Regions from separate parts of the Homo sapiens genome. Here all the other regions are reported to be linked to region 3. Evidence: microRNA targets listed by miRTarBase, many of them from high-throughput screens and not tested one by one. Region 3 holds a microRNA gene; each other region holds the end of a gene's coding sequence.

What was found. Region 3 holds the annotated microRNA hsa-miR-6130 (UGAGGGAGUGGAUUGUAUG, at 3,776-3,794, opposite strand). A microRNA usually pairs through its seed, bases 2 to 8, with sites in the 3' UTR of a target mRNA and lowers its output. Matches are read on the target gene's strand: a 7mer-m8 pairs with bases 2 to 8, a 7mer-A1 pairs with bases 2 to 7 and ends in A, and an 8mer does both.
Region 1: miRTarBase lists UBL4A as a target of hsa-miR-6130. Seed matches in the 3' UTR shown: 7mer-m8 at 1,249-1,255, 7mer-m8 at 2,556-2,562 and 8mer at 2,640-2,647.
Region 2: the mRNA of MRM3 is a reported target of hsa-miR-6130. The part of its 3' UTR that is shown has no 7-base or 8-base seed match.
Region 4: the mRNA of EIF4EBP3 is a reported target of hsa-miR-6130. Seed matches in the 3' UTR shown: 7mer-A1 at 460-466.
Region 5: the mRNA of SRF is a reported target of hsa-miR-6130. Seed matches in the 3' UTR shown: 8mer at 1,029-1,036.
Region 6: the mRNA of SLC2A4 is a reported target of hsa-miR-6130. Seed matches in the 3' UTR shown: 7mer-m8 at 4,291-4,297, 8mer at 3,700-3,707 and 7mer-m8 at 3,267-3,273.

What each region holds. Positions count from the first base shown.
Region 1 is chrX:154,481,376-154,486,447 of GRCh38, reverse strand. It overlaps UBL4A (ubiquitin like 4A), which reads left to right. Exons shown (of 4, transcript NM_014235.5): 2 at 115-220; 3 at 469-677; 4 at 799-2,731. The coding sequence ends at 909. Among named protein-coding and RNA genes, the nearest start is that of UBL4A, 2.7 kb to the left of the region's middle. RefSeq lists enhancers at 1-385, 386-1,144, 4,398-4,457 and a silencer at 300-449.
Region 2 is chr17:791,255-796,339 of GRCh38, forward strand. MRM3 (mitochondrial rRNA methyltransferase 3) reads left to right here. Exons shown (of 4, transcript NM_018146.4): 4 at 280-1,255. The coding sequence ends at 815. Among named protein-coding and RNA genes, the nearest start is that of MRM3, 11 kb to the left of the region's middle.
Region 3 is chr21:23,078,063-23,083,147 of GRCh38, reverse strand. It overlaps MIR6130 (microRNA 6130), which reads right to left and starts at 3,864; the gene lies at 3,756-3,864.
Region 4 is chr5:140,548,843-140,553,842 of GRCh38, forward strand. EIF4EBP3 (eukaryotic translation initiation factor 4E binding protein 3) reads left to right here. Exons shown (of 3, transcript NM_003732.3): 2 at 64-234; 3 at 392-734. The coding sequence ends at 420. It overlaps ANKHD1-EIF4EBP3 (ANKHD1-EIF4EBP3 readthrough), which reads left to right. Exons shown (of 36, transcript NM_020690.6): 35 at 64-234; 36 at 392-734. The coding sequence ends at 395. It overlaps SRA1 (steroid receptor RNA activator 1), which reads right to left. Exons shown (of 5, transcript NM_001035235.4): 3 at 3,140-3,342; 4 at 2,219-2,327; 5 at 1,226-2,069. The coding sequence ends at 1,858. Among named protein-coding and RNA genes, the nearest start is that of EIF4EBP3, 3.7 kb to the left of the region's middle.
Region 5 is chr6:43,178,348-43,183,432 of GRCh38, forward strand. SRF (serum response factor) reads left to right here. Exons shown (of 7, transcript NM_003131.4): 5 at 1-138; 6 at 459-535; 7 at 748-3,159. The coding sequence ends at 843. CUL9 (cullin 9) reads left to right here and starts at 3,849. Exons shown (of 41, transcript NM_015089.4): 1 at 3,849-3,902. RefSeq lists enhancers at 1-17, 18-517, 3,520-3,589 and silencers at 3,840-3,979, 4,000-4,049.
Region 6 is chr17:7,286,087-7,291,171 of GRCh38, reverse strand. It overlaps SLC2A4 (solute carrier family 2 member 4), which reads right to left. Exons shown (of 11, transcript NM_001042.3): 11 at 2,915-4,746. The coding sequence ends at 4,543. It overlaps YBX2 (Y-box binding protein 2), which reads left to right. Exons shown (of 9, transcript NM_015982.4): 4 at 1-79; 5 at 637-921; 6 at 1,101-1,204; 7 at 1,447-1,642; 8 at 2,334-2,423; 9 at 2,529-2,909. The coding sequence ends at 2,384. Among named protein-coding and RNA genes, the nearest start is that of YBX2, 6.0 kb to the left of the region's middle.

The sequences.
Region 1 (5,072 bases), not on the chromosome of region 3:
GCGGCCGGGCCGAGGGCCGGGAGCCGGGAGAGCTGCCCTCGGGGGCGGACGCGTGGGCTTCGCCGTCTGGGGGCCGCGGGCTCAACCCTTGCCTCCCACCCTCCGCGCGGCCAGGTGCCAGAGGACGAGCTGGTGTCCACGCTGAAGCAGCTGGTCTCCGAGAAGCTGAACGTCCCAGTGCGCCAGCAGCGGCTGCTGTTCAAGGGCAAGGCCCTGGCAGGTACCCAGGGAGAGGAGACGCCCGGGGAGCCCCGCAGGAAGCGGGACCGGGGTGCGCGGGCCGAGGCCAGCAGCCGTGTGTCGGGTCGGGGTGCGGGCGCCAAGCGCCACATGACCCCAAGGGAGGCGGCCGCATGCCTCACAGCCGGATGCCGCAGCGCTCCGCTCCCGCCGCCCGAGGCGGCCTCGCGCCCCGGGCCACCCCCACGGCGGTGGAGGAGGAGGAACCCATCGATCTGTCTTTGGCAGATGGGAAACGACTCTCGGATTATAGCATCGGGCCCAACTCCAAGCTCAACCTAGTGGTCAAACCCCTGGAGAAGGTGCTACTAGAAGAAGGCGAGGCCCAGAGGCTGGCCGACTCCCCACCCCCGCAGGTCTGGCAGCTGATCTCCAAAGTCTTGGCCCGCCACTTCAGTGCGGCAGATGCCAGCAGGGTCCTGGAACAGCTACAGAGGGTGAGAAGGGTAACCCTGGGCATCCTCTTCAGGCCCAGTTGCTCCCAGCCCCTACCTCTGTTGCAGTGTATGCCCCCCCACCACTGGCAGCCCCTGAATCTTCCTGCCCTTCTCTCCCCAGGATTACGAGAGGTCCCTGAGTCGCCTGACGCTGGACGACATCGAACGGTTGGCCAGCCGCTTCCTGCACCCTGAAGTGACTGAGACAATGGAGAAGGGCTTCTCCAAATAGAATTCTCGGAGCATGGGGAGGTGCCCAACGCCAGGCTACCGCTGCATGTCGCACTAAGTGTGTTCTCCTGTTGCAGTTGGGCTCATCATCATCATAGCTGGCATGTACCTGGCTCTGGCCAGGTGCTAGGCACTCCTCACAGCTTGACCTGGGTTTGCTTCCACACCCTCAGAAGAGGAGAGCCGGCACAGCAGAGGCACCGGCGATGAAGTGGCACAGCCCCAGTCGGAATCCAGCGGCTTCTGAAAGTGCCTTGGTGTGAGAAGGAGGAAGGGGCCGCTTGGAGAGCTGGGCTCTCGCATGTCATGTTTAGCCCACTGAGAATATACCCTCAGGTGACTCCCTCCCGATCCTGAAAGGGAAAGCAGCTGTCACCTGACTTCTGGCGGGTCCAACATAGCCCTCAGCTTACCTCTGCAGGAGGCCAAGTGACAGCCAGCCCTGGAACCCCCCGACCCCCGCAGCTGCTGCAGCCAGTGTGCCAGTGTGCGTTCGACAAATGGAAAAGCAGATTGGGGCCAGGGAGTCAGCAAGGCACCCCAGCTCTGTGATGTGACTTTGGGCGAGTCTCAGTGCCACTTGGTCCCCAGCCATGGACTCTATACAGTGAGGGCCACTCACCGACCTGAGTCAGTGTCCTCTGTCTCACAGGGCCCCTCTCCCTTCTGTTCAGTAAACAAACTGAAGCCAAAAATGAAGCCGTGGCCAAGTGTGACCCAGAGATGGGGTGTCCTGGCCCTTAGTGACACAGCTCCTCTCTGGGGCACCCTATCTGCTTGTCTCGTCCAGGAAGCGTTAGGGCTGATGGGTGACTCAGCAAGGCAGTGTCAGAGCTGGGACTGGGCGTAGGCCTTTGTCCTCATCCCCAGCACTGGCCTCCCTGTGGAAGATGAACATATCCCAGCCACCTGTGTACAGGGGCTCACTTTGTGTGCTCCTTGTTGCCTGAGAAGAAACCTTGGGGTGCCAGGGTGGGGGCAGAAGCATGGACTGGGTTCCGGTTCATCCTCCTCCACCCTGCCGTGTGTGTGGGCACAAGAGGACATCTAACCACCTGCTCCTTGGAGGAGGCCCCCAGGGGTGGTAGAGGCTGGAAGGAAGCCACATCAGGAGGACGCCACTCCGGCCCTTCACCCTTGCCAAGTGAGCTGCTCACAGTGTGGTCAGGGCTGCGCGTGCTGGAGGCCCTCCTGCCTGGGCCTTGTGGGGCAAATATTGGGTCCCCAGGCTGGAAAGATGGACAGAGGCCCAATGGGTGAAGGCTTTGAAGAGCACACAGAAGCCCCTGGCCCCCCACGAGAGCTGGAGAGCCATGTATATGGCTTCAAAGCCACCTACGGCAGGGACACACTCGTGAGCATGTGTGGCCTGCAGTTCAGGTGATACATTTACCAGTGTTCTTGTTTGTGTGGTGCCAGGAAATTGATTTTGGAAAAAGTGAAATAACATTAAAGGTGAATGTGAGGCTTCTACTTTTATCCAAAAGGAGCTATATTAGCTAGGCTGTTTCTGATATCCAATCATTGGTTTAACAATAAAGGCAATTTGTTTAATCAGTTAACGGAAATTTCTTGGCTTATGAAAGTGAAAAGTCCAGTGGTATTGGCATTGGCAGCAGGTGAGCAATTTCACCCAGTGTCTTCTGCCTCCCTCTGCGTTGGTATCTGCTACATCCCAGGCCACCACCTCCGAGGATGAAAAGATGGCTGCCTGCAGCTTCCACGGAATCCCTCCCTCACTGCCAGAGCAGCATCTTCTCTGTGTACCACCTCTGCTGTCTCAGATGCCCCCAGCAAATAAACACTCTTCTCGTTGGTCAGAACTGGATTGTGCGTCCAATCATTTTGGCTGGGGTAGGGGGTAATTCTCCGTCAGGGCTGGCTCCCTGGAGCTAGGCATGGGGCCACTTCCCTGGACACACATGGGCTATGCAAGGGACAGAAGGCTCTGGGGGAGGGCTGGATGAATGGATATCCTCAATGGTGGCCGCAAATGGCAGCTGTCCACTACAGGGGCCATGCATGTGTCAGATCAGGGCCACCTCGCAGGTAGTGGAGGAGAGGGCTGGAGGCGTCAAGATCACACAGGGAAAGCGTTTTCTGAGGCTTGGGTTAGGGAAAGCACCAGAGAGAGGAAACACTGCAGGGATGGGAGACAGGAAGTGGGGGGATCGTTAGAGGACACTGGGGATTCTGCATGAAGATGGAGCAGCCACAGGCTGCAGCCCCCCCAATGCTGAGATCCTTTAACAGGGGTCAGAATGTTTACTGCAGGTGCTGCGCCCCTCTGAGCCAATTGTCCGCCCTGAGAGGTAGCACCGAGTCATCCACTGCCCCCTGCCCGGTGAAGGGCCCTGAGACCCACCACCTGCCCCTCAGGGAGGGGCCTCGGGACAGTATCTGAGTCCTGCGGCCATGGTGTGACTACAATGACATCAGGAGATAGCAGCATGAGTGAAGGGCCCAGCTGGGATGAGGTGCTTTTGGTGTCGTTTCCCAAGGGCCCACGGGAGGAAGAGCGGCCTCAGAGGACAGCAGCATTTGCCTTGGGGTGGGGAGGTTCCCTGGCAATGGATCAGCTGGTGTCCCATGTGAGCCTCACCAGCTCCAATAGATCTGCCCGGGCCTGGTACTCCCAGGAGTAGATGCAGCAGAGGTGGCCAGCCTTGAGCCTCCCAGCCCTGAAAAGCCTTCAGGAGAGATGAGAGACACACAGCAACTGCCCTGTCCTCCTCCAGGGCCCAGCTGGAGCGGCCTGCATACACCTTCAGGGCCCCACTGAATGGCCGGCAGTCCTCATTCCTCACCCTCTTCTGCCTTTGCTCTCCCGCTGTTTCCACCACTTGCTCCTACTCAGGCTCTCTTGCTGGTTCTTCACACACACCCCACCCCTCAATGTTGGTGCCCCAGGGCTCTGTCCCTGAGCCCCTTCTCTTCCCTCTGTATCACTCCTCGGGGAGCTCATCCAGCTTGCTTTCTATTTCTGTGCCTCACTGCCATGTCTATGTCTCATCCCGGCCCTCTCTCCTGAGCTCCAGCCCATGTCTTCCAGACAGCGCCTGACTTTGCTGCAGACGACACCCTGCTCATCACTGAGTGCCCCCTTGTGTCCCAGGTGCTGGCAACCCTGAGACTGGAAGACACAGTCCCTTCCCTCTTGGCACTCACGTCCAGCACTGGCCGGCTCCTCAGCACACACGTGTTCTCCACGGCCCGGCTGGAGGACTGGCAATGCCACTCAGCCAGGCTTCTGAGGGAGCAGGAGGCCATCTTTGCCTCTCCCAACTAGCCATTCTCCATAGGCAATCAGGCAAGAATATTTTTGGAAGCATCCAGGGCAGCTGCTACTGTATCCTTTCCTCCTCTGACCACACTCACCCCCAGCCCCTCATCAGGCAGCTGGCAGGGTCAGGCTGCCCCACTGTTGAGGACGCTCAGTTTGATCACGTGATCCAGGTGGCTGCTGCCAGATCTCTCCCCTGTAAAGACGCAGTTTCCCTTCCTGATTCACAAGTAATTTGGGGTAATATTTGGGGACTTTGTGAATATCCTGTCCCCAACAACCTTTCAGCTAATGCTTTTGCCATCCAGCGACAATTCCTTGCCTGAATCGATTTTTTTTTTTTTTTGTGAGACGGAGCCTCACTCTGTCACCCAGGCTGGAGTGCAATGGCGTGGTCTCGGCTCACTGCAATCTCTGCCTCCTGGGTTCAAGAGATTCTCCCGCCTCAGCCTCCTGAGTAGCTGAGACTACAGATGCATGCCACCACAGCCGGCTAATTTTTTTTGTACTTTTAGTAGAGATGGGATTTCACTGTGTTGGCCAGGCTGGTCTCAAACTCCTGACCTCGCAATCCACTCGCCTCGGCCTCCCAAAGTGCTGGAATTACAGGCGTGAGCCACTACACCTGGCCATCCTGAATCAATTATTAAGTTAATAACAATTAATTATTACATTGGTGGTTGCAAAGATGGTAATTTTCTGATAGTTTTTTCTACAGCTATTACTTGCCATTTCCCTATAAAAACCTTTCCTTTATCTCTGCTTTCTTTCCTGAATATCATGGACTTTTTTGTTTGTTTGTTTGATTGAGACAGAGTCTCAGTCTGTTACTTGTGCAGAGTGCAGTGGCTAGATCATAGCTCACTGTAGCCTTGACTTCC
Region 2 (5,085 bases), not on the chromosome of region 3:
TGGGGACTTTCATTATCTTTGCATCTTCTGCGCAGTGTCTGGCACGTGTGAATGGGAGATGTTGAAGGGATGCATAAAATATCTTCAGCACTAGCAGGAGTGACTCCTATAGTCGCTGTGCTGGATGCTGTCAGAGAGAGGCAGAAGGTCCCATCCCTCAAGAAAGCTATCATAGAAGAACTGGTTTATCTCCTGATCCAAAATTGATCAGACTTACTCCACAGTCCCCTGGTCTGGGAAGATTTGTAACATCTTGATTGTTTCCTTTTTATTTTCCAGGCTGTGTGGATGCCTGGGAGCCCAAAGTGCTCCGGGCGGGTATGGGCGCACATTTCCGGATGCCCATTATCAATAATCTGGAATGGGAAACCGTGCCCAATTACCTGCCCCCTGACACTCGGGTCTATGTGGCTGACAACTGTGGCCTTTATGCCCAGGCTGAGATGTCTAATAAAGCTAGTGACCATGGCTGGGTGTGTGATCAACGAGTGATGAAGTTTCACAAGTATGAGGAAGAGGAAGATGTAGAAACCGGAGCCAGTCAAGATTGGCTGCCTCATGTTGAGGTTCAGAGTTACGACTCGGACTGGACAGAGGCGCCGGCAGCTGTGGTGATTGGCGGGGAGACCTACGGCGTGAGCCTGGAGTCCCTGCAGCTGGCCGAGAGCACTGGTGGCAAGAGGCTGCTGATCCCCGTTGTGCCTGGTGTGGACAGCCTCAACTCGGCCATGGCGGCAAGCATCCTGCTTTTCGAAGGGAAAAGACAGCTGCGGGGGAGGGCGGAGGACTTGAGCAGGGACAGGAGTTACCACTGAGGACGCAGAAGTGACTTCTGCTTGAGGACGTCTGCAGCTCCTCCTACACCAGCACACTGGTGGGAGGCTGGCGGAGTCAGTGACTATGGCCCCCACGTTCAGGAGGAAGGTGTGATGCCGTCATACAGTTACAGGAAAAATAAGAACTTCCTCAGAAAGAACAGGTCCGAATTCTTCCTGTCGCGTCACTGATTTTGAGGTTCTTTTTTCTCTTGGTGACAATAGGTGACCCACGTGGCTCTGTGTGTTTTTAAAAATTGTCCACCAAGAAGCACTTTGTGCCCAGAAAGTTCCTGAAGCATCATCCTGGCAGGGAGGCGCCTGCTCCACCAGCTGGTGGGTGTTTGTAATCGCCAAGCACCAGCTATAGGTCACAGCCACATCACTCACAGCTGATCACTGGTTGGTGGAAAATAAACTATGAGCAGCAGATTACGTTAGTAAGTTGTTTTGTGTCGTTGGTGTGTCACAGTACCTGTCACGTTTGGCCTGGTAACGAGGACGTGGCTAAGGGAACACCAGGAAGCTGAGGGCTACGCTCATGGCATCCAGCAGCTCTGCTCTGGGCTCAGATGGTCTGTCTTTGAGATTGTTCAGGGCTTCACTGAGCCACTGTTTATGTATCCATAGAAACGGCTTAATTCAACAGGCCATGTCAGACCTTCTTGGCACCTCTGCAGATACCTTTTTGAGGACTTTGCAGAGACGGAAGTCTATGCGGAAAACTGAATTTCAAAATCGGCAGCCTCACCCTGCATGTGTCAGGAAAGTGTCACTGTTTCCTGGTTCCCTGTGTTAGTCCTACTTACGTCTCATCCCCCAATGTTTAGAGGCCAAGGTTCTGAGAATGAACGCCCACAATACAGCGGCAGGACCCTTCTGTTCTCTCAGCCCCTCCAGGGCCCAGGGCAAGCTGGATCTTTACCTACTAGCGGCCAAACCAGGATGTAGCCAGGGTGTCAGGGCAAGTGCTGATGGTCATCAATGTATCTATAAGGAACTGTGGGGATGGGGTGGGTGGGTGGAATATGGGACTCTTAAGCACTGCTGGCCAGGTGCGGTGGCTCACGCCTGTAATCCCAGCACCTCGGGAGGCCGGGCGCAGTGGCTCACGCCTGTAATCCCAGCACCTCGGGAGGCCGGGCGCAGTGGCTCACGCCTGTAATCCCAGCACTTTGGGAGGCCAAGGCGGCGGATCACAAGGTCAGGAGATCGAGACCGTCCTGGCTAACACGGTGAAATCCTGTCTTCACTAAAAAAATACACAAAATTAGCCAGGCGTGGTGGCAGGTGCTACTCGGGAGGCTGAGGCAGGAGAATGGCGTGAACCCGGGAGGCGGAGCTTGCAGTGAGCCGAGATCGCGCCACTGCACGCCAGCCTGGGCGACAGAGCGAGACTCCGTCTCAAAAAAAAAAAAAAAAGCACTGCTTTTGCAGCCACACAGAGTTGGAGTTGAAGACAACACAGGAAGCGTTTCCCCACACCCCTCTGCCCAGCGGCTCCCGTAATGGTTTGGACACTGCTCACTCCAGGGAGGTCAAGTGTGTTGCTGGTGTGCCCAGGAGAAACCTTCTTTCTCTTCTACTCCCCCAACTTCCTAGTCAAACTCCCTCTTCCTAGTAAAACCAAATGACCAAGCATGATTCACGTGCCAAGGGGCAGGTTGGGATTGCTCTCCCCTGGGGGAGGGGTGTTTGCAGGGACAGTGTCCTCCCAGGCTGACATCTGAATATTTGAACATCTGCTCTGGAGCCCCACTGTGGTCTGGGCCTGCCCAGAGCTCCACATGAATGGGCAATGCAAGTGTCCCCCCAACACTGCTCCCAAAGGCTGGTGCAGAGAGGACAGGCGGAAAGGCGGCCTGGAGAATGCAAATCCATCCCACTCCAGTCTCCCCAGACACCTCAGGACAGTGCTCAAGCAGCAGGAGTCACGAAAAGGAAGCTCACATCTTTCCAGCCTAAAACCAATCTCGTGGGATTTGTTCCCCGGGTTATACTCCCACTGACTCGTTACAAAATAACAGTGAAAGAATAAACCATGTATTACCTTGTCCTTGTTTAGAAAAAGCAATGTAAACACTGGAAAGTAATTTTTTTTTTTTTTTTTGAGACGGAATCTCACTCTGTCGCCCAGGCTGGAGTGCAGTGGCGCGATCTCGGCTCACTGCAAGCTCTGCCTCCCGGGTTCCCGCCATTCTCCTGCCTCAGCCTCCCGAGTAGCACCTGCCACCAAGCCTGGCTAATTTTGTGTGTTTTTTTAGTGAAGAAAGGATTTCACCGTGTTAGCCAGGACGGTCTCGATCTCCTGACCTTGTGATCCGCCGCCTTGGCCTCCCAAAGTGCTGGGATTACAGGCGTGAGCCACTGCGCCCGGCTAATTTTTTGTATTTTTAGTAGAGACGGGGTTTCACCATGTTAGCCAGGATGGTCTTGATCTCCTGACCTCGTGATCCACCCGCCTCGGCCTCCCAAAGTGCTGGGATTACAGGCGTGAGCCACAGTGCCCGGCCAACACTGACAAGTAATTCTAAGCCCATTTTATCCTGGGTGTGAGAGGGAAAAGAAATTTACATCCCTTTGCTTTAGAGTCCGTGGCTTATATGCCACGGTGCCTTCAGTTCACTTTATATATTCATGGGTATAATTTAGTAGGGACGAGGGAGGGTGCAGGAGGGAGGCAAATTGTCCTTTCTTCAGTGAATACAGGGGAACAGATGGTTGTTATTTGCTGAGTGATTCTGGAAAATCACTACCTTGAATTCTCAGTTTTGAGTCTGACATTTGTTCTGTCACCATTTCCCCAGTAAACAGGAATAAAAAACGAGCCACATTTGACAAGGAAAACACTGCTTGGCCGAGAGACAAACATTGTCAGGATGTTGGCCACGCTCCCGCGCCTTTGTGTGGTGGCGTAGCTGTCACAGTGGCGTCTGCCAGGAGGTGGCAGGCGACACCTCCAAAACCACCCCAGTGCTGAAGGGCGGGGCTGCGATTTTTTCCTGGATTTAAATCGTTGAAAAGGGAGGAAAAGAGGATGGAGTGAAGTCTCCCTCCACCAGAGAGCATTTTGCAAGCTGTCTGTGCTCCGGGGTGTTAAAGCCGGAGACCCATCCAGATTGTCCCAGACCACCTCAGAAGAAAGAACCCGGAGTACAGGAAGACATGGGAACAAAAACGGAGGCGAAAGAGGACGAACGGGAAATAGCAGGAAAGACCGTCACAACTTTTCCCTGTGACTGCAGCCTCTGAGAAAAGCAACTCTGGGCAAAGCATAGGTGTCCAGATGTGCCTGGAGCTCACGCTGGGTGCCCACCGGCTGGCCCTTCGGTTCCTGCTTCGGGGCAGAGAGCGTTGAAATCACTCTCCCCTCGCCCCAGCCGCTGGCTCCTGGCTGGGAGCCTGGTCATTAAGGTCCAGAGGAGAAACAGACCTCTGGGGACCTGCCGTTCACCTGGGACCTTCCGCTGCTTGCCCCGGGGTTGACAGCAACCCCAGATGTCCGCACCAGCCACGCTGGGCCACACTTAGCCCCACTTTTGCCATTCTACCACGCACAGCCCTCACACACACTCCCCATCCAAGGTTCCAGGGCTCTGGGCTGAAAATCACCAGCTGTACTGCAGGGCCTGGGGCTGCCCTCTTGACCAAGCTACCTCTCCCTCAGGAGCAGAGCTGACAGGCTCACCTGTTTTTAAGAAAACATGTTGCCACCTTAAAAATTCCATGATTGTGTTTCCTCTGTTTTCTTTTTTTTTTTTTAGATGGGGTTTTGCCACGTTGCCTAGGCTAGTCTTGAACTCCCGGCCTCAAGCTATCCTCCTGCTTCAGCCTCGAAAGTGCTGGGATGCCAGGCGTGAGCCCCTGCGCCCGCCATGTTTCCTGTTTTCATCAGTGCAGGGAGTGCACACATGTAATAAGCTAGGAGCCAAGTTAGTGGATGAGCTGGTTTATTGCTCAGGATGACTGAAGTCTCAACTACGGAACCATGTTACATTCGAGCAGCTGAGACAGCAGCTGAAGCCAGGTCCTCCCGAAGCTTCAGGAAGCCTGCTTGATGCTCCACGGCTGAGAGTGACAGAGAATCCAGAATAGCTTATGGATGGGTCAGTTCTCGTCTCACCACACTCCCAATATCCAGCTTCCTGGACTGTTGTGTAGGGAAGAGCCACTTTTTTCAGTTGAAGTCTGAGTTCTTATGGGCCATGACCAAGGCTGCTGCTTCCTCAAAAGGCACGAAGGGGGCCGCGTGCGGTGGCTCACGCCTGTA
Region 3 (5,085 bases):
AAATGAAAAAGTCACTTGATATTTTAAAAACAATTCCCTGAACTTTCAGACCTACTCAGGTTTATGAAGACAGATTACATTAAAAAAAAAAAAACTTTAAATAAGCTCAATTTACAGAGAGAGACAGAGAGAGGGGGAAAAAGAGGGGTGGGAAGAGAGAAATAGAGAGAAATAAAGAAAGGAAAAGAAAGGAACGAAGAGCGGAGGAAGGAAAGAAGGAAGGAGAGAGAGAGAAAAAAAGAAAGAAAGAGAAAAGAAAGAGAGAAAGAAAAGAAAGAAGAAAGATCAAATTTTCAAATTTACAGAGAGTAAGTAAATTTCTTAAGGAAACAAAGAAACTGATTTTTGGTGTAGGTAAAATGTGAAAGATAGCAGTTGTCAAAATGCCTGCATAAAAACGGCACCAAAAGGAGAATGAGCAGTTATATGGTTTTCCTGTTTTAACCAAAGAACACTTAAAGGAATGATTCCACACATGTTAACATATGCTTTCTGTTAAAGTGAACGAAGTATGGCCTGAGAAAGACTCCATACTTTTATCTCTGAGTCCTTGTGGATACTTAATAGGTAGGCAAGATTGAAAACCTAACTTAGGAGTATGTGCCTGTAATAATAGCAGAGTCTTAGCCAATGCCAGCAGCCATACTTCAACTGATCATAGACTGTTGAGTGTTCAAACTGTGTTCAAACAAGGCAAATGCCAACATATAACCATCTAGCTGTTTCTGTGCCTCACTTCTGATTTCTGTATGTCACTTCCTTTTTTAGTCTACAAACTTGTTCTGCCTGATTTGCGAATGGTTCATTGCTCAATTAAACTCCTTTAAATTTAATTTGGCTGAAGTTTTTCTTCTCTTTGCTTTTTTCTTTTGTCTTTTTTTTTTCCTTTTTGAGATGGAGTCTCACTCTGTCTTAAATTTAAAGGAGTTTAAAAAACTAGAAATCAATAATGAGGGGAATTTCAGAAACTTCACAAATATATAGAAATGAAATGATGTAATCCTGAATAACCACTATATTACTGAAGAAATTAAAAGGAAAATTCAAAAAATGTTTGGAAACAAAATGTAAATACAACATATCAAAACCTACGGAATATGGCAAAAACAGTCCTAAGAGGGAAATTCATAGCAATACATTCCAGCAACCAAAAAGAAAAAAAAGATCTTGAATAAACAAGCATTGCATCTCAGAGAACTGAAAAAACAAGAACAAACTATACCTCAAATTAATAGAAGAAAGGAAATGGTAAGAGTCAGAAAGAAAGAAAGAAAATGGGCTAGAAATATGATACAAAATATCAACAAAATGAAGAGTTAGTATTTAAAAAGATAAACAAAATTAATAAACTTTTAGCTAAAGAAAAACAGAGAAAACTCTAATAAATAAAATAACAGAAGAAAATAATACATTACAATTGATACCAAAGGAATAGAAATGATTATGAGACTATCATGAACAAATTATACACCAACAAATGAATTACCTAAAAAAATGGATAAATTCCTTGAAACATGTAACCTACCAAAATTCAATTAGGAAGAAACAGAAAATCTGAACAGACCAGTAACAAGTAGGGAAATTTAATAAGTAGTTAAAAAACTCCCATACAAAAAACAAACAAGCAAACAAACAAAAAAAACGCAAAAAAACTAATAGTGTTATCTTCATTGCTGAATTATACCAAATATTTTTAAAAACAATTAATACTATTTTTTCTCAAACTATTCCAAAAAATTTAAGAGGATTAAATACTTTCAAACTCATTCTATGATTCCAGAATTACCCTAATACCAAAACCAGACAAGGAACACAGCCACAACAGTAAAGACTGCAAGCTAATATTCCTGCTGAACATGAATAATACAAGCATATTCAACCAAATACTAGCAAACCCAATTCAACAGCAAATTAAAACATTCATTCACCATGATCAAGTAAGATTCATCCCAGGGATGCAAGGATAGTTCAACATATGCAAATCAATAAGCATAATACACCACATTAATAGAATGAAGGACAAAATTCACATCTCAGAGAACCAAAAAAAAAAACAAGAACAAATTATATCCCGAATTACTAGAAGAAAGGAAATAATAAAGATCAGAATGAAATAAATAAAATAGGCTAGAAATATGATTTATACATACAGAAAAACATTTTATACATACAGAAAAACATTTTACAAAATTTAACATCCCTTCATGAAAATAAAAGAAACTCTCAACAATTAGTTACAGAAGAAATGTACCTCAACACAATAAAACCCATATATGACAAACTTAGAAATAACACCATACGGAACAGAGAAAAGTTGAAAGCTTTTCCTCTAAAATCTAGCACAAGACAAGGATGTCCACTTTCATCACTTCTATTCAACATAGTACTAGAAGTCCTAGCCAGAGCAATTAGACAGAAGAAAGAAATAAAAGGGATTGAAAGAGAAATTAAAAAGGTAAATTATCTGTTTGCAGATGACATGATGTTACATATAAAAAACTCTATGGATTACACCAGAAAACAGTTAGAATTAATATATAAATCCAGTAAAGTTGCAAGATACAAAATCAACACACAAAAAATCAGTTACATTTCTATATACTAATAGTAAACTATCTGAAAAAAAGAATTCAAGAAGACAATTTCATTTACAACAGCTATTTAGAAAAAAAACCCTAGAAAAAACTTTAACCAAGGAGGTGAAGGATCTTACACTGAAAACTATAAATCATTGATTAAATAAATTGAAGAAAACATAAATATATAGATTTTTCATTTTCATTAAATAGAAGAATGAACATTGTTAAAGTGTACCCAAAGTGATCTACAGATTTAATGCAATGCTCATGAAAACACCAATGGCATTCTTCACATAAATTGAAAAAAAAATCCTAAAATTAGTATCAAATCACAAAAGAACCCCAAATAGCCAAAGCTGAAATCATAACAGTACCTGACTTTAAAATTATCTATAAAGATATAGTAACCAAAACATTATGGTAGTAGCATAAAAGCAGACACATAGACCAATGGAACAGAACAGAGAGCCCAAAAATAAATATGTGCATTTATAGCCAACTGATTTTCAATAAATCTGGCAAGAACACCCAATGAGAAAAAGATAGCCTCCTCAAAAAATGGTGCTGTGAAAACTGGATATTCACATGCAGAAGAATAAACAAGACTCTCTATGTCTCACCATATTCAAAAATCAACTGAAAATGGATTACATATTTAAATGTAAGATCCCAAACTGTGAAAGCTACTAGGGAAAAGCTCCACGACATTCGTGTGGGCTGGTCAAGGATTTTCTATTTAAAACCTCAAAAGTAAAAATTAGACAAATTATACTATTTAAAGTGAAAAAAGCTTCTGTACAGCAGTGAAGAGGCAATCTACAAAATGGAAAAAAATTTGCAAAATATACATCTGATAAGGAGTTAATATTCAAAATATATAAGGAACTTAATAGCAAGAAAACAAATAACCCTTTTAAAAATGGCTAAAAGACTTGAATAGATACGTTTCAAATGAAAACATACAAATGGCCAACCTGTATATTAAAATATGCTCAACATCATAATCATTAGGATATGGAAAATCAAAACCAAAATGAAATATTACCTAATTTCTACTAGGATTACTATTATCAAAAAGGCAGAAGATAAATATTGTAAATAATGTGCCAAAATTGTCACTGTTAGTGGGAATATAAATTAGTGCTATTAGGGAAAACAGCATGGAGTTTCCTCAGAAAATGTAAAAATAGAACTACCATACAATCCACTCCCTCAGTACTGCATATAAATCCAAGGAAAATTACATCAGTATATAGAAGGGATGCCTGCATTTCCACATTCATTGCAGCATTATTCACAATAACCAAGACATGAAATCAACCTAAGTGTCTATTAGCAGAAGAATCACTAAAGAAAATGTGGTATATTTACATAATGGAAGAGTATTCGGTCACAAACAGGAACAAAATCCCACCATTTGTGACAACATCAATGAACCTGGATGATTTCATGCTAAGAGAAATAAGCCAGGACAGAAATACCACATGATCTCACATATGTGGAATCTAAAAAGTGGAACTCGTAGAAGCAGAGAGTTGAGTAGTGGTTACCAGAGGCTGAGCTAAGTAGGAGGAGAGGGATTGGGTGATCCTGGTCAAAGGATATACAATTAAAGTTAGATATAATAATTGTTTAAATGTTTAGATATGCAAACATATAGAGAAAAAATGTAGACAAGTGATTGTATAAGGCCAGGAAGGTTGGGGAGAGGAGAACTGGCGGTGGAGGAGTTAGAGAAATAAGGAATAACCATTATTGGTTATGGAGTTTCTTTTGGGGCTAATGAAAATGTTCTAAACTTGATTGTGATGATGGAGGCACAACTCTGAGAACACTTCATTGTATTGCACATCCTAAGTGGGTGAAGAGTATATGCATTATATCTCAATAAAGCTCTAAAATAAAAATTATGGGTTTATTCTGCTACTTCTAATATCCATCTAAACTTATGCCATTACATACATGTATTCTCCATTTCCCACAGTGAGAATTCTCAAATATATTAATATACTTACCCTTTGTTTAATATATTTTCAAAAGTGTTATACCAACTGCACTATGAACAACAAACCTATGAAGTTGGGTTCAAAATATCTTTCTTTTTAAGAGGCAGGCCCCTATTTGTTTTGATAATTATTACTCAATATTGTATATATTAAATTATCACACTGAGTAATCAGAATATATATGATCTTTATTGGTTAATTAAATATATTTAAAGAAAATATCAAAATTTATTTCTTTAATTTTGTGTGGATACATATTAGGTATATATATTTATGGGGTATATGAGATGTTTTGATATAGGCATGCTATGTGAAATAAGCACATCATAGAGAATGAGAGAATGGGGTATCCATTCCCTCAAGCATTTATACTTTGAATTACAAATAATCCAATTACATTATTTAAGTTATTTAAAAATATACAATTAAGTTATTATTGATGATAGTCACCTTATTGTGCTATCAAATGGTAGATCTTATTCATTCTTTTTTATTTCTTA
Region 4 (5,000 bases), not on the chromosome of region 3:
GGGACCCCAGTCACCTCGGTACCCAAGCTCCTGACTCTTACCTCAGTCCCAACCCCTTGACAGGCACCAGGATCATCTACGACCGAAAGTTCCTGCTGGAGTGCAAGAACTCACCCATTGCCCGGACACCCCCCTGCTGCCTCCCTCAGATTCCCGGGGTCACAACTCCTCCAACAGCCCCTCTCTCCAAGCTGGAGGAGCTGAAGGAGCAGGAGACAGAGGAAGAGATACCCGGTAAGGAAAGCAGGAATTAAGAATTGTCCCAGCCTTTGAGTTCAAATGCCACTGTGACACAGTGCGGGGGTTCAGTTCCAAGAGGGGTTTCTGCACTGATGCTGAGCCTGCAGATCCTCAGACCAGCAACCTGTCTTCCTGCCTTTTCTCTCTCCAGATGACGCACAATTTGAAATGGACATCTAATCCAGTGCAGATGACCTGGCATGTGGAGTTACAGAGGGATCCCTCATGCCACTGCTGCCACCACCTCTTCCTGGGGCATCCAAAGGCCAGCTGGCCTCATCTAATCTGGAAGGGAGTGACTTGTTAGTTCCAGGCCTCCTTTAGTTCTGAGGCAGCTAGACCAGGGATAGGAGTGGGCAACTTGCCAAGCCCTTAACTCTACTTCCTCTTCAGTCTGTGGTACTCCTCCTAACCCTAAACCCTCTATGCTCAGGGGCTGGAACTGGGGAATGGAGTAAGTCACCTTCTGACTGCTTAGTAAACATTCAAAGAAATGCCTTGGCTCCAGTGTTCTCCTCAATGCTGATTTTCTCATCTCAGCCACACAGCTGAAGGCCCTGGCAGGCCTGGTTAAGCTCAGAGGCCTCAGATCATTCCCAGCTCCCACCAGGCCCACTTCCAGCAGCAATTAGAACCTGAGGCACGCTACAGTGGCAGGTTACATGAGCCTCCAAACCATAAACAGCAATAGCTTGGCCACTGCCAAGGGCTGTTCCTGTCTTCCCAGGAAGCAGCCTTCCTGGAACCAGGGCCCCCCAGCAGCCCCTCCCCTATCCATTCCAAAGCAGGACTCTTGGAAAAGAGGTGCTGTCCCAGCCTATAGCCATCCTGTCTCTCCCTGTGCCTTTTCTGCTTCCCACCTCTAAGCACCAGTTCCTCTATTCCAACACCAAAAACCTTGTACCCTTCTCACAGCATGATAGTCCACCAAGTACCTCTCTCAAAGGGTTACAAGAGACCTTAGAGTTCACACTGAAACCCAAAATGAGGCAGCAGTTTGTTTGGCAAGTCAGAGTTACAATCCCCAATCTCAGTAATCTGGTCTTTTTCTCCTTCGATTTACACAGAAAACCCCACTCAATGTGGTTCTAATCTCTGTAACAGTAGTATCTCAAGGGTGATACAGTGCAAATAGGACTGTCTTTCCTTTTGTTGAGGGAAAAGTCTCCCCGTTCTATTTGAGTCTGTTCTCATGCTGAAATGAAACCATCCAAACACAGCTGCTCCGCCCAGCACAGGATGTGCTTTCAGTCTACTTTGGGAAAAAGTGGTAGGCAGTAGTCTGACTTTACCCAGCAGATCCCTTCCTGATGAATGGAGAAGGGAGAACAGAGGTTTGCAGATACACAGGGAGCAGGGCAGTCGAGGACACCAGAGGGGACTAGCTTGGCACCGGAAGGGTTCATCTCTCCTACCCAAGGCCCACCGCAGAGATGTTTTTATTGAAATGCATGTTATGAGTAACACATGAACTCCCTCTGGCCCAGGTGGGACTTCTTCCCTCATAGGTGGGTCAGGCCCAGTGGGACAGTCTTGGTGGTGGTAAGAAGGGAGCCAAGTGACAGAAGGTCTCCAAGGCATAGGAGATGGTGTCCGGTGAGTCTGGGGAACCGAGGATTATGAAGCCTGCTGGAAGCCTGGTATGGTATGGTTCTTCTCAGCTGTGGCTGCAGATTTCTCTTCATTGGCTGCCTCCTCTGAAAACAGACTCCTCTTTTCTGCAATTAATCTTTTAACTCCTACCATCCACTGACTGACCTCAGTCACATGGTCAACCATGAGGGAGCGGTGGATGTCATCTGCTGCGTCCCACCGGTGGCTTGAAAGCTCTGAAGAGAGACGGGGGTTGAGCAAGCAGCCTGTGGTACAAGAGCTTCCATGCCTCCCCTCCCAGTCAATCAAAATCTCAGCACCTGCTCCAGCATAGCCAACCACAGCAGGAAAGGGATTTAGGCTATACCAAAGAACCCACCCATACCTTGCACCAGTAGAGCCATTCTCTTCTTTACAGGTATTGACAACTTTCCTCCAGCCCACTGTTCCTGCAGCAGTGCCAGGCGTCGGCTGATGTCATCACATACCTGCTTCTAAGAGACAGAAGCCCCCCTCCAATTCAGTGCTGCCAGCCCAATGAGGGGAGGAGAGGGGAAGACAGCACCACATAGGAAGCACCTGCTTTCTCTGGCCCACACTTTAGAATTCTGGTTCTTTACCCAAAGATTAGAGGCCCCACTGAGAAACTGATGAAACCTTCCTTTCCCTGCTGTCTTCTTCTGACACTGCCTGATGTTTCATTGAAAAGTAGAGGTCATTAAACAGGAATTCTCTCATCTTCCCACCACCAGTCTTCCTAACCCACCTCCTACTATGACTAGAATTCTAAAATTTCAGGGGCTTCTCAGACTCTCAGAAGCTCATCCTGTAGCGTTACTTCACAAAAAGAAAACTAAGCGCCAAAGAGGTGAAATGACCATGCTACTTTCCCTTTCTTTTAAGACATTCTTCAGATCTCTTTTTCTAAGAACTAAGAAAACACTATAGCTAGAAGAGGTTTCTTTCTCCCTAACTGGGCACAATATAAATTTCCTGAGAATAAAATCAGCAGCTTCTGCTCTGAATGGCATGGAGATACAGAAAATCAGGTTGTTCACTAATAGGAGCTGAATTCAACTCTTGTTCCCACAGCATCTTCTACTGATTGGTCTTCAAAAGTCTTATTAATGCTCCTGAAATCCTGTGTTCATTTCTTTGGGAAGGCCTTAGCAGATTCTGAAGGAGTCCGTAACTCTCAAAGGATTAAGAACCTGTCCACTGGGTCAGAGGGTCTATCTCTGGGAACCATTCCTGCATTTGGCTGTGGATGGGAGCCCTCTCTAACCTCTGATGTGCCAGAGCTTACCCTTGTGTGGCCACGGCAGTCTTCCAATGCCTGTTCCAAAGGTCTCAGCACATCCTCCATCACAGCCTCAGACTCGACTGGGAAACTTGTGGGCTCCACGCCAGAGGCAGGACCACTCCCCACAGGTGGGGACCTGGGAGCCTTACTTGAAGGAGGTGGAGGCCCCATTGGGGGAGGCCCAGGAGAAGTCTCTGATGCGGGGACTGAAAAGGTACAGCAGGATCAAGCAACATGGCTTAAATGGGTAAGAAGCTTAACTCTAAATTCACCCCTTCTAAGAAGGGCTACTCTCTGAGACAACTTATTCATTCAAAAATATGCATTTATGAAGTCCCCACTCTACGCCAGACAATATGCTAGGCACTAAAGATTAGAAAAGTAAACCAGGTGGCCGGGTGTGATGGCTCACACCTGTAATCCCAGCACTTTGGGAGGCTGAGGCAGACAGATCACCTGAGGTCAGGAGTTCAAGACCAGCCTGGCCAACATGGCAAAACCCTGTCTCTACTAAAAATACAAAAATTAGCTGGGCATGGTGGCACATGCCTGTAATCCCAGCTACTCAGGAGGCTGAGGCAGGAGAATCGCTTGAACCCGGGAGGCAGAGGTTGTGGTGAGCTGAGATGGTGCCATTGCACTCCAGCCTGGGCAACAAGAGTGAAACTCTGTCTCAAAAAAAAAAAAAAAGAAAAGAAAAGTAAACCAGGCCTGGGCACAGTGGCTTATGCCTGTAATACTAACACTTTGAGAGGCCAAGGTAGGAAGATCACCTGAGCTCAGGAGTTCAAAACCAGCCTACGCAATATAGTGAGACCTCATCTCTATAAAAAAATTTTAAAAGTTAGTCAAGTGTGGTGGCACACACCTATAGTCCTGGCTACTCAGGAGGAAGTAAACCAGACAGATTAAGTTCCTGACCTCAGAGAGCTTAATTCTAGAGGCAGGGAAAAAAACACAAAATTACTAAATTATGTTACATGCTACCAAGAAATAAAATGGTTTATGCAATAAAGAGAAATGGGAGAACCTATCTAGACTAAGTGTTCAAGGAAGGCCTTCTGAGGTACATTTAAGTTTATCTGAGCTCACTTGCTATGTGACTTTCAGCAAGTTACTTTCAACTAGAGCTTAGGTTCCTCTTCTGTAAAATGGGGATGAATATAATGCCACTTATTTCACAAGGTTGCAATGAAGATTAGGAATACAGGTACAGGCTGAGTGTGGTGACACATGCCTCTAATCCCAGCACACTGGGAGGCAGAGGCAGGAGGATCGCTTGAGCCCAGGAGTTTGAGAGCAGCCTGAGCAGCATACTAAGACCCTCTTAAAAAAAAAAAAAAAAGACAGCTGCTAGACTAGTATGTAGCAAAAAGTACAAAATGAGCTGTTTTTATTAAATTGAGAACTACCGGATGAGATAGATGCAGCTATGAAGAGTTGAAGGAACATGTACTAGGTCGAGGTTAGAGCAGTGCCCAAGAAGCAGGAAAACTTTTGATTTGTTCAAGAGACAGTAATGAGGCCTGTATGGCTAAAAATTATTACCACTGAAGAAAGTAGTATGAGCTATCATTAGAGAGGTAAGCAGAGGGTCCAGACCCTGTGGGGCTTTGGAAGAGTTTGATCTTGAGTCAATGGTACTGGGAAGCCACTGCAGGTTTGTAAAAGCAAGGGGTGATGTGACCAGACTTATTTTTAAACATGTATGCTCTGTGAAAAACTGATGAAAACAGGTCAACAGTGGTGGCAGGAACACCAGTTGAGAGGTTGAGTAGTTCAGGAAAGAGATAATGCTGGCATGGACTAGGGTAAAAGAGTAGACGAGGGGAATGGAGTAGTCTGAGATTTACTTAGGAGGAAG
Region 5 (5,085 bases), not on the chromosome of region 3:
ACATGATGTACCCTAGCCCGCATGCGGTGATGTATGCCCCCACCTCGGGCCTGGGTGATGGCAGCCTCACCGTGCTGAATGCCTTCTCCCAGGCACCATCCACCATGCAGGTGTCACACAGCCAGGTCCAGGAGCCAGGTGAGTAGAGGAGCAGGGCTAAGGAAAGGAGGACCGTTTCCTTCTTTATACACACACACACACACACATACACACACATATGCACTGATGCCTACAAATATTTCTACCCAAATACAACACAGACTTGGATGCTCACACACACATTTGGACACCCCACTTGGACACTCACACCCGCATGCACCCTCAGACACACTGGCACCCTTTCCCTTGGGCTCTTACATCTGAGACTGCCCCAGTCACTTGTGCATTTGACACCACTCCTCCAATATCTGGAAGTTTCAACAAACAATTTGAGTATCTCCTGTGGTTTTCCAATGTAGGTGGCGTCCCCCAGGTGTTCCTGACAGCATCATCTGGGACAGTGCAGATCCCTGTTTCAGCAGTTCAGCTCCACCAGGTAGGTAGGGATATCTTTCACCCCATCCCAGATAGCCACTTCTTTGTCTTGACCTTAGGGGATCCTGTTACCAGTTCATCAAAGCCAAAATCCCTAGCCTGGAAGCCCATCTGCTTTTCTGCTCAGGCCTGTGGTTGGCAGGCAGGGAAGCCAGGGGAGCCTGAACTGGCTGGCCAGTCCCTGCCCCTCCTCATACATCCCCTTCCCTCCAGATGGCTGTGATAGGGCAGCAGGCCGGGAGCAGCAGCAACCTCACCGAGCTACAGGTGGTGAACCTGGACACCGCCCACAGCACCAAGAGTGAATGATCCGCCCGCCGCCCTGGACAGATGGCCCAAGGGATGGCACCACTTATTTATTGTTGCCTTTTCACGTTTTCTTTACACACACGTTGACGGGCCGCAGGAGGGAGGCGGGGAGGAGGAACGGGCAGCCACAGGACTGAGCCCTCTCACTCCAGCCAAAGAAATGGGCCTGCCTGCCTCCACCCGTCCTCCCTCAGCCTCCCCTTCTTCCCGCCCCACCTCCCATTTCTGTTGCTGGAGGGGCTGTCCTCCTTCCTGGGACCCCCTCGCCAGCTTGGCTCGATGTTTGCCATGAGTATTAGCTTACCCAATGGGACCGTGCCCCACCTCCCCACACACAGGCCTTCTGTGGGGCTGGGCACCGTGTCCTCCTCTGAGGAAGCAGTTGGGGCCCTCTTGCCAGCCTCCTTGCTGACCCCAGGTCAGCCCTGTGTCTGTCACAGGCTGGGTCAAAAGAGCCCTGGCTCTGCCCCTCAGGGGGCCAGCTGGGGAGATGGGGGCTTCTTCCTCACACTGCTGTCCTCTCCCCCTTCAGCTCCTGAGTAGCTGGGCCTGTGCACTGGGCAGGTTCCTGGGGCCGCCTGCCCTGCCTTGCCGCTCCCCTTGGACCTCCAGGGGCTCCTGGGTTGGAGGGAACCACCAGCGTTCCCTTCTCCCCCTTGTCTTCCCCCCTCTCCTCCCAGCTGCTTTACTTAAAGTTGATTTTGAACTTTTTATTTGAGGAGACGAAGTGAAAACAAATCTATAAATATATATTTTTAAAATATTTAACTTTTTTTTATGGCGTTTTTCTCGTCCCCCTCCCTGCCCAAACTCCCCTTCCCTGGGGAGCCCTCAGGCTCCCCAGAACTGGCTGGGCCCCTGGGGACAGAGCCACCCCATGAGCTCGGGGTCCACCAGTGTGTGGGGGAGATTCTGGGTTTGCCCAGTCCTGGGTTGTTTCCAGGAGAAAGCCGGGGGAGGGGCCCTCAGGCCATTCCCCAACGGGGTGGGGAGGGTGACCCACAGCTCTGGGCCTCTTTTTGCCCTTTAGGGCTGTTGCTAGGGAGAGGGAAGAGGGAGACCAAATGTCGGGGTTGGGGTGGGAGGGCGTCAGGCAGAGGCAACTGACTTCATTTGTGCCACACGCATGGGCATTGCAGCCTTGCGCTGTCCCAGGCATGCAGCTGCCTGGGGCCCAAGTTGCAGTGAGCAGGGTGGGGTCTGGGAGGGGGTGAGAGGCAGGAATGGGGGTCAGAAGAAGTGGGAGCAGCTTCTTGGGCTGAGTGCAGCCAAAGGGGAGCCAGAAATGGGCAGTTCTCCCAGGGAGTGAGCAGCTACTGTAACTTTTTTAAATTAAGACAAAAAGCCTTGAAGAAAATGACTTTATTTTTCTAAGTGTAACCTCAGTATTTATGTAATTTGTACAGGGGCCATGCCCCACCCCCCTCCTCCCCCTTTGGGGTAGACCTTGAGGGTGGGCCAGCATAGGGGGGAGGGTCTTTTACCCTGTGTCAGAGCCTACCTTCACCACCTATATCCAGAAGGGGAGCTTTTTCAGAAACAGGGCAGCAGTGGGGTGAAATTTTCTTAACCCCTAAGACTGCCTTCAGTAGGAACAAGCTGGCTTCTGTGATTAGGTGAAGGGATGGGGGAAGATTTTATGCACAGCCTAGTTATCAAGGGGATGATTTGCCGACATGTTTGAGAACCCCCTAACCTCTAACCCTCATTGCTGTCTTGCCCCAGTTTGGGGTGCCAAGATGGAAGTCACCTTTCTGGGCTTTCTCCTGGAGATAGCTGGGGCTTATGGGTGGCTTTCAAGGCTGGGGCATGGCAAATCAGGGGCCAGAGAGCAGGGGAGCTTGGGACTCAGGTCTGTAACTGCCCAGCCCCTTTTCTCTGCTCTTGTTTCACTCCACCATCACTCACTCACTCCCCACTCCCCCACCCATGGGGAGGAGACCTTTGATGAATTCTTCCTCTCCTTCCCACAAAAGACAGACCCAGTGAGTGAATCAGGCAAAGTGCTTATAATGTGTGTTGTGTGAGCGTGGCCTTGGGAGGACATGCGTGTGTCAGGGATGAGTTGAGGTGATATTTTTATGTGCAGCGACCCTTGGTGTTTCCCTTCCTCGGTGGCTCTGGGGTATGTGTGTGTGGGTGTGTGCGCCTGAGTGAGTGTGTGTGCTTGAATGTGAGTGTGTATGTCAGTGGTTTCTACTTCCCCTGGGATGCTGACCCAGGAATAGTGGACATGGTCACAGTCCTATGTACAGAGCTTTCTTTTGTATTAAAAAAAAATACTCTTTCAATAAATGTATCATTTTTGTGCACAGACTGTGGGGTCTTTGGTTCTGTTTTTCTACTTAGGGAGGGATGGGGGTATGAACGCGAGGCAAACTCCTAAAATTGCTGCTCTGAGTAGCGATCCGGGCTGCTTGATGAGAACGGTAATGCTAAGGTGTGCTTTGGGCTGTTTAATTCTATACGATTTAATTTAAGGAAAGTTTTGCGGGGCCGAGGACCTTCTCCCTGTGCGTGGCTTCGCTAGGTGTTAAGGCCAACGCAGAGGAGCAAATTTTAATTAACAGGAAAAGTGACACAACTAATCCAAAGCATTGCTGAAGGGTTTGGGAAACTCATGGGCACCTGACCTACTGAAAAGTCAAAAAGGGCAGCCTTAAGGTGGGAATGTGGGTTACCATGTTTCGTCAGCATGATCGCTGTGATGGGAGAGGGAGGATTAGGAGGGCCGACCCAGTGAAGAGGAGGGGGCTTCACAGTTGACTGGATGGAAACGGCTTCTTCCTGCTGCTGAGAGAGGAGCAACGTGACCTCGATCCCAGGCTCCTCCGGTAGCGCGCCCCCACGCCCCTCTTCCAGTGCAGCCGCCCGCGGTAGCACGCATGCTCCACTCGCGCGCTGTTCCGCCACGCTCGGCGTGGGCCGCGGTGGGACCCGTAGGTGCCCGGCCGTGCGTGCACTCGCCGTGTGACCCGGAAGGGAGCTCTGAGGAGGCGGGGCCAGGACGGCGGGACCGGCCGCTGGGTCCCAGCGAGGGCTGAGCCGGGCGGTGGGAGGTGAGAGGAGAGTTCTGCGCCGACCCAATCCCTCCCCTTCTCCTGTCCCCTCCCCGGTCCTTTAGCCACTGTCCATGGGGCTGACGAAGGGAACCAGGTCTTGCTCTCTGAGATTCACTGGATCTTTTCAGCTTTTTTGGACCGCGCCCCCAACCATCCTTCCCCCTCCCCCCAAACCCGTTCCCTCTGCGGTGCTGGCCTCCTCCACCTCCCCACGGCTCTGCAAGCTTGGGCTTGACCTTGCTATCTGCTGGTCTCATCCATGCGTCCAGAGCTCACCCCCACACCTCAGTTTATTGTTGCTCTTCTAGGCCGACGTTACACCTCCTACCTCCTCCTATCCGATTCTTTTACTTCCCCCTGCTGCTAATCAGTTGCCCGCTGGCACATCGCTGGCTACCATCCAGGCTTGCCCCCCATCCTAAGTGGACCCCTACCTCCATTGAGGTCCACATCCATCTTTCTCCCTCCTCTTCACCTCTACTCTCATCTTCTGTCCCTGTACCCCAACATGACCCCTGCCCTGACCACTATATCTTCATCTGGGTTTACCTTCTTCCATTCTTATTCTCACTATTCCCTGTTGCCCCTGCACTGCTTCATATCACGCATATCTTTCCTGATTATTCCACTCCCATTTATAATCGGTCTTAATAACTTTGCATTTATTTGATGACTCCCCTACCTTCTCCATCTAAGAATAATAACAGATTATGTTTACTGAACACTCTTTATGTGCTAGATGCTGTTCCAAGTGCTTTACATACATGATCCTACTAAATTCATGAAGTAACTATGAATATTACTACCATCTTGCAGAAGAGGAAACAAGCTCAGAGGTTAAGTAACTTGTTCCAAACTATGCAGACAGTGAGACAGAAAGCCAGAATTCAGAGTCACATTTATCTGATACTGAAGTCTCTGAATATTGCTTCTCTCCTGACCTCATTTCCTACCTTTAACCCCATGATTACCACCTCTATCTTATCTACTTAACTTACTTAAATCCTTACCATACATGCAGTATAAGGGCAGGGTGGGACCTGGTCATCTTTCCCATAATTTTATCTGGTCCCTAGGGCCCTCCCCCTTTCACAAGACTCGAATATACTTTTCCTATCCAGTCATTTGCCCCAACATCCCAGCCTTTTGTCATCTCCATTCTCTATATCTGCCATGGCCC
Region 6 (5,085 bases), not on the chromosome of region 3:
AAGAAACAACCCCAGGAAGTTTCTGCGCAGCGTTGGAGATGGGGAGACTGTGGAATTTGATGTCGTGGAAGGAGAGAAGGTTTGGGGACTGCTATGGGGTATAGAGTTGACTAGGCTTACGGGAGGGTGGCCTGGAGGTCATCACAGGCTAAGACCCTCCTGGGGCCAGCTCTGACCCGTTCTGCGGGAATGGGACTGTGTTCTCTCACCCTGATGTCCTCTTCCTTAATGCTAGGGCTAAGGGATGTCCTAAGTATGTCCCTGTCATCGGTCGGCAGTGTCTGGGTTTCTTCTCTAGTTCACCAAGCACTTCGACATCCGTTCTCCACGTGGGGCCCTGTCCTAGACTTCCCGAGTCCGCCTCTGGAGTAAAAAGGTGGATGCTGGCTGCCAGGCCTTTCTCCACCCAGTCGTATACTCAGGAGGGTGCAGTAGCAATTATTTCAAAAGGACATGTTGCTCCTTCCCAAATGGGTGCAAGCACATTCCACTGCCTCTCCAGGGAGGGTAGAAAGAAGTTAGAGGAGCTAAAGGAAAGCTGGAGAGGGGTCTTCCCCTGAAAGAAGGGGAAGCAAGTTGGGAAATGCACATTGGCTGTTGGAGCAGGTTCTCACTATTCCCTTACCACCTTCCCAGGGCGCAGAAGCCACTAATGTAACTGGGCCTGGGGGAGTACCCGTGAAGGGCAGCCGTTATGCCCCCAACCGACGTAAGTCCCGCCGATTCATCCCCCGGCCTCCCTCAGTTGCCCCACCACCCATGGTGGCAGAGATCCCCTCGGCGGGGACAGGACCTGGCAGTAAAGGGGAGCGGGCTGAAGACTCTGGGCAACGGCCCCGACGATGGTGCCCCCCACCCTTCTTCTACCGACGGCGGTTTGTGCGAGGCCCCCGGCCTCCCAACCAGCAGCAGCCTATAGAGGTGAGGGGATGCTGGAATATGGGAGCCAGTTCCCCAAGTTCAGGAGAGGAGTGGGAGTTAGGATAGAGACCATGGGTCCCCAAAGAAGGAGGAACTGAGGGTTGGGCAGAGCTGTGGATAATCTGGCTCCAGAGCAGCTGCTGTCCCCACAGCTCACCGGGGCCTTTGCATGTTCCCAGGGCACTGACAGGGTAGAACCCAAAGAGACAGCCCCATTGGAGGGGCACCAACAGCAGGGAGATGAGCGAGTCCCCCCGCCCAGATTCCGGCCCAGGTACCGAAGGTAAGACCCCCCTGCTGGGGCTTGGTCTTCCCCTTCCAGTGTTGGATCCTTGGGGCAAGGGACAGGAGGATGGAAGGGTGAAGCTCTAGGCAGAGCCTGGGCTCCTGGCGAGACAGGTGCCTTGCGGGGAGGCAGTGCTCATGGGCTGGAAGCCTGGCTCCTGGAGGTGGGGTGGGGCAGCTGGGTGAGCCCTGGGGAGGGAGTATTCCCTGGTCCCCTCAGAGCCTTGTTCCTTGCCTTAGGCCTTTCCGCCCCAGGCCACGCCAGCAGCCTACCACAGAAGGTGGGGATGGTGAGACCAAGCCCAGCCAAGGTCCCGCTGATGGTTCCCGGCCTGAGCCCCAGCGCCCACGAAACCGCCCCTACTTCCAGCGGAGACGGCAGCAGGCCCCTGGCCCCCAGCAGGCCCCTGGCCCCCGGCAGCCCGCAGCCCCTGAGGTGAGGACCTCAGATGTGGGATGAAAGAAAAGGCTGAGACCAGCTCCCTCCCCCACCTGCTCCTTTTTCTTTCCTACTCTATCCTTTGGCTCCTCCCCTCCCCTGCCCTGGCCCTGCCACCACCCTCTTCCATGCAGCCTGCTGGGTCCCCCCCTGGCAGGTGCCGCCTCCCACCAGGAAGCCCCCACAGAGGCAATCAAGCCCATGATTGCCCATGATGGCCATGCCCCCCCCAACCCATCCCCCACTTGCTGCCTGGAGCCATCCTACCAGCTTGTAGATGTGAACTGAGGGGTGTGATTGAGGTTTTAATGGGAAGGGAAAAAGTGAAAGAAGGTTGAAGTTCAGGGCCCTGAAGAACAAGTCTCAGCCCTGCGCGATGTCTCATGCCTGTAATCCCAGCACTTTGGGAGGCAGAAGCAGGCAGATCAGTTGGGGTCAGGAGTTCAAGACCAGCCTGACCAACATGGAGAAACCCCGTCTCTACTAAAGATACAAAAATTAGCCAGGCGTGGTAGCACATGCCTGTAATCCCAGCTACTTGGGAGGCTAAGGCAGGAGAATCACTTGAACTGGGAGGGGGAGTTTGCAGTGAGCCAAGATCACGCCACTGTACTCCATCCAACCTGGAGTGAGACTCTGTCTCAAAAACAAAAAGAACAAGTCTCAATTGGCCACCGCTGTTCTTTAGACCTCAGCCCCTGTCAACAGTGGGGACCCCACCACCACCATCCTGGAGTGATTCCAACTCAACTCAGAGGACACCCAGAGCTGCCATCTGGTGAGTGGCTGGTGCAGTTGGGTGGGTGGCCAGGAAGGTGAGGTACTGGGTGGCGATGACAAGTCGCTGTTGTTCACAATCCGTCCATTTCCTTTTCTCTCTCAGGTATCTGCCAGTTTTTCCAAATGACCTGTACCCTACCCAGTACCCTGCTCCCCCTTTCCCATAATTCATGACATCAAAACACCAGCTTTTCACCTTTTCCTTGAGACTCAGGAGGACCAAAGCAGCAGCCTTTTGCTTTTTCTTTTTTCTTCCCTCCCCTTATCAAGGGTTGAAGGAAGGGAGCCATCCTTACTGTTCAGAGACAGCAACTCCCTCCCGTAACTCAGGCTGAGAAGGAACCAGCCAGCTCTTACCTCCTCCTGGTTGCTTTTCTTGCCCCCACCCCAAGTTTATTTTTGTTTTCCCCCGGCCCCCTACCTCTGAAGCCATTTTATGATCTGTCATGTGCCACCTGAGCCTCCAGTAAAAACAAAAACAGGCTTTCCTGTGGTCTTGGTCTCCATCTCTTCTGTTTTGGAGAATCGCTAGTAACTCACTGTTGAAGGTGGGGAGGAGGGGATGTGGGGCCGTGGGCAGGGCCTGGCATCCTTGCTGCCATGTCTCCAGCTGTGTCCCTGGTGAAGAGTGCCCCTATCATGGGTTTCACTGCCCATCTGTGACATGGGCTGACACCTCCCTCACAGAGTGAGTATTCTGCAAATGCCAAGAGCAATGCCCGGCACTGGCAGCTACAATTTATTGAGCATTTACTATTAATAAAGCAACGAGTAGAAATGTGAGTAGGGGCATGAGCAATGGCATCCAGAAGATTCTGAGGCCTTGAGCTGAGGCAGGACAGAGGGAGGAAGAGGGGTGAAGAGTTATGGTCCCTGTCTCAGCCCATCCTCAAGTACCTCCACAATAGGATGCTTGTCTTCAGCAGTGACTTTATAGAAGTATCTATATATATACATTTAGTACAACCGACCTTTGGTTTCTTCTCTCAATCCCCTTTTCAAACGTATATAAAAATATCCAAAGGCTCCTCCCAGCCCAGTGTTTCCAGGCAGCCTTTCAAATCCCCTCTTTGCCTTAGTTGGTCAAAAGCCTGTGGATGCAGCACCCTTCCAGGAAGGGAGAGGAAGAAAGTTAGGGCTCCTTCTTGGCAGCCTTGGGAAACCATCGGGGTAGAGCCCCAAGCCTAGAGGCGGGAGCCTGCCGTCCTTCCATCTTGCCACACATGGGCACATACTTTCCTGTTCCCTCTTGCCCTGGAAGGCTGAGCCTGCAGTGAGGGAGGTGAGTCCTTTTCCCTGCAGGGGTCAAGAGAGAACTCCCTTCGCCAGGCGCGGTGGCTCACGCCTGTAATCCCAGCACTTTGGGAGGCTGAGGCAGGCAGATCACGAGGTCAGGAGATCGAGACCATTCTGGCTAACATGGTGAAACCGCGTATATACTAAAAATACAAAATAAATTAGCCAGGTGTGGTGGCATGCGCCTGTAGTCCCAGCTACTCCGGAGGCTGAGGCAGGAGAATGGCGTGAACCTGGGAGACAGCTTGCAGTGAAGCAAGATCACGCCACTGCACTCGAGCCTGGGCGACAGAGCGAGACTGTCTCAAAAAAAAAAAAAAAAAAAAAAAAAAAAACCCCTTTGCCCAGAGTCTGCGTGGCAAGAATTCAGTGAAAGTCCCAGATTGTGGGAGGAGTCCAAGGTGGTGGGAAACTGGATTTCTTGTCTCCTGTCCTGCTCTCTGCTCTGGTTTGTCCCACTGAGAAAGTCTAGACCTGTCTTCCCTCCAATCCCCCTTCTCTAGCAGCGAAGAAGGTATTCTGGAGCTGAGTCTGGGGAAGGTGGGGAGGAAAGGGGATGGGGGAAGGAAGAGGGAGGGGAGAGTGGCCCACCCTGATGGCCACGGCCAAACCACAACACATAAATAATCCAAGAGAGTCACACGAGGGGAATGAGGGGGTGCTCAGACCACCCTTCCCCCAGCTTCCCAATTCTACCAGGCTGCAGGGATTCTTTTCCACCCGGAAATAATAGGGAAGAGAGGGTTAAAGTGCTGCAGAGGAAAGGAAGGGGTCTCTGGGCCGGGTAGAGAGAGCTGGCTCTCCCACCCCTGCCTGGCCCCTCAGTCGTTCTCATCTGGCCCTAAATACTCAAGTTCTGTGCTGGGTTTCACCTCCTGCTCTAAAAGAGAGGGTGTCCGGTGGAAGGCAGCTGAGATCTGGTCAAACGTCCGGCCTCGAGTTTCAGGTACTCTTAAGAAGGTGAAGATGAAGAAGCCCAGCAGGAGGACCGCAAATAGAAGGAAGACGTAGGGCCCCATAGCCTCCTGGGACAGGTGGAGAAAGAGGTGTTGACGGAGTGAGGTGGGGAGGGAAGGGGTAGTTTCAGGCAACCAGGAGCTAAAGGCCTTCATAGGGAGCTGGGGGGACGGCAGACAGCAGCTGCCTCCTCCAGGGACAAGGGAAATGAGCAGGAATGAGAATTTACACTGAAAAGAGGATTCTCTGAACCCCAAACACTCTTAGTTTTCGCCCTCTTCACCATCCTCAGTTACTGCACTCAGAGGAGAGTCCCAGCTGTTTGTAGTATTAATGCAAAGTGTATCATTTTATTCTTGGAGTAAGGTAAGTTATGCCACTGGTGCGTTTCAGACACCTCAGTTACT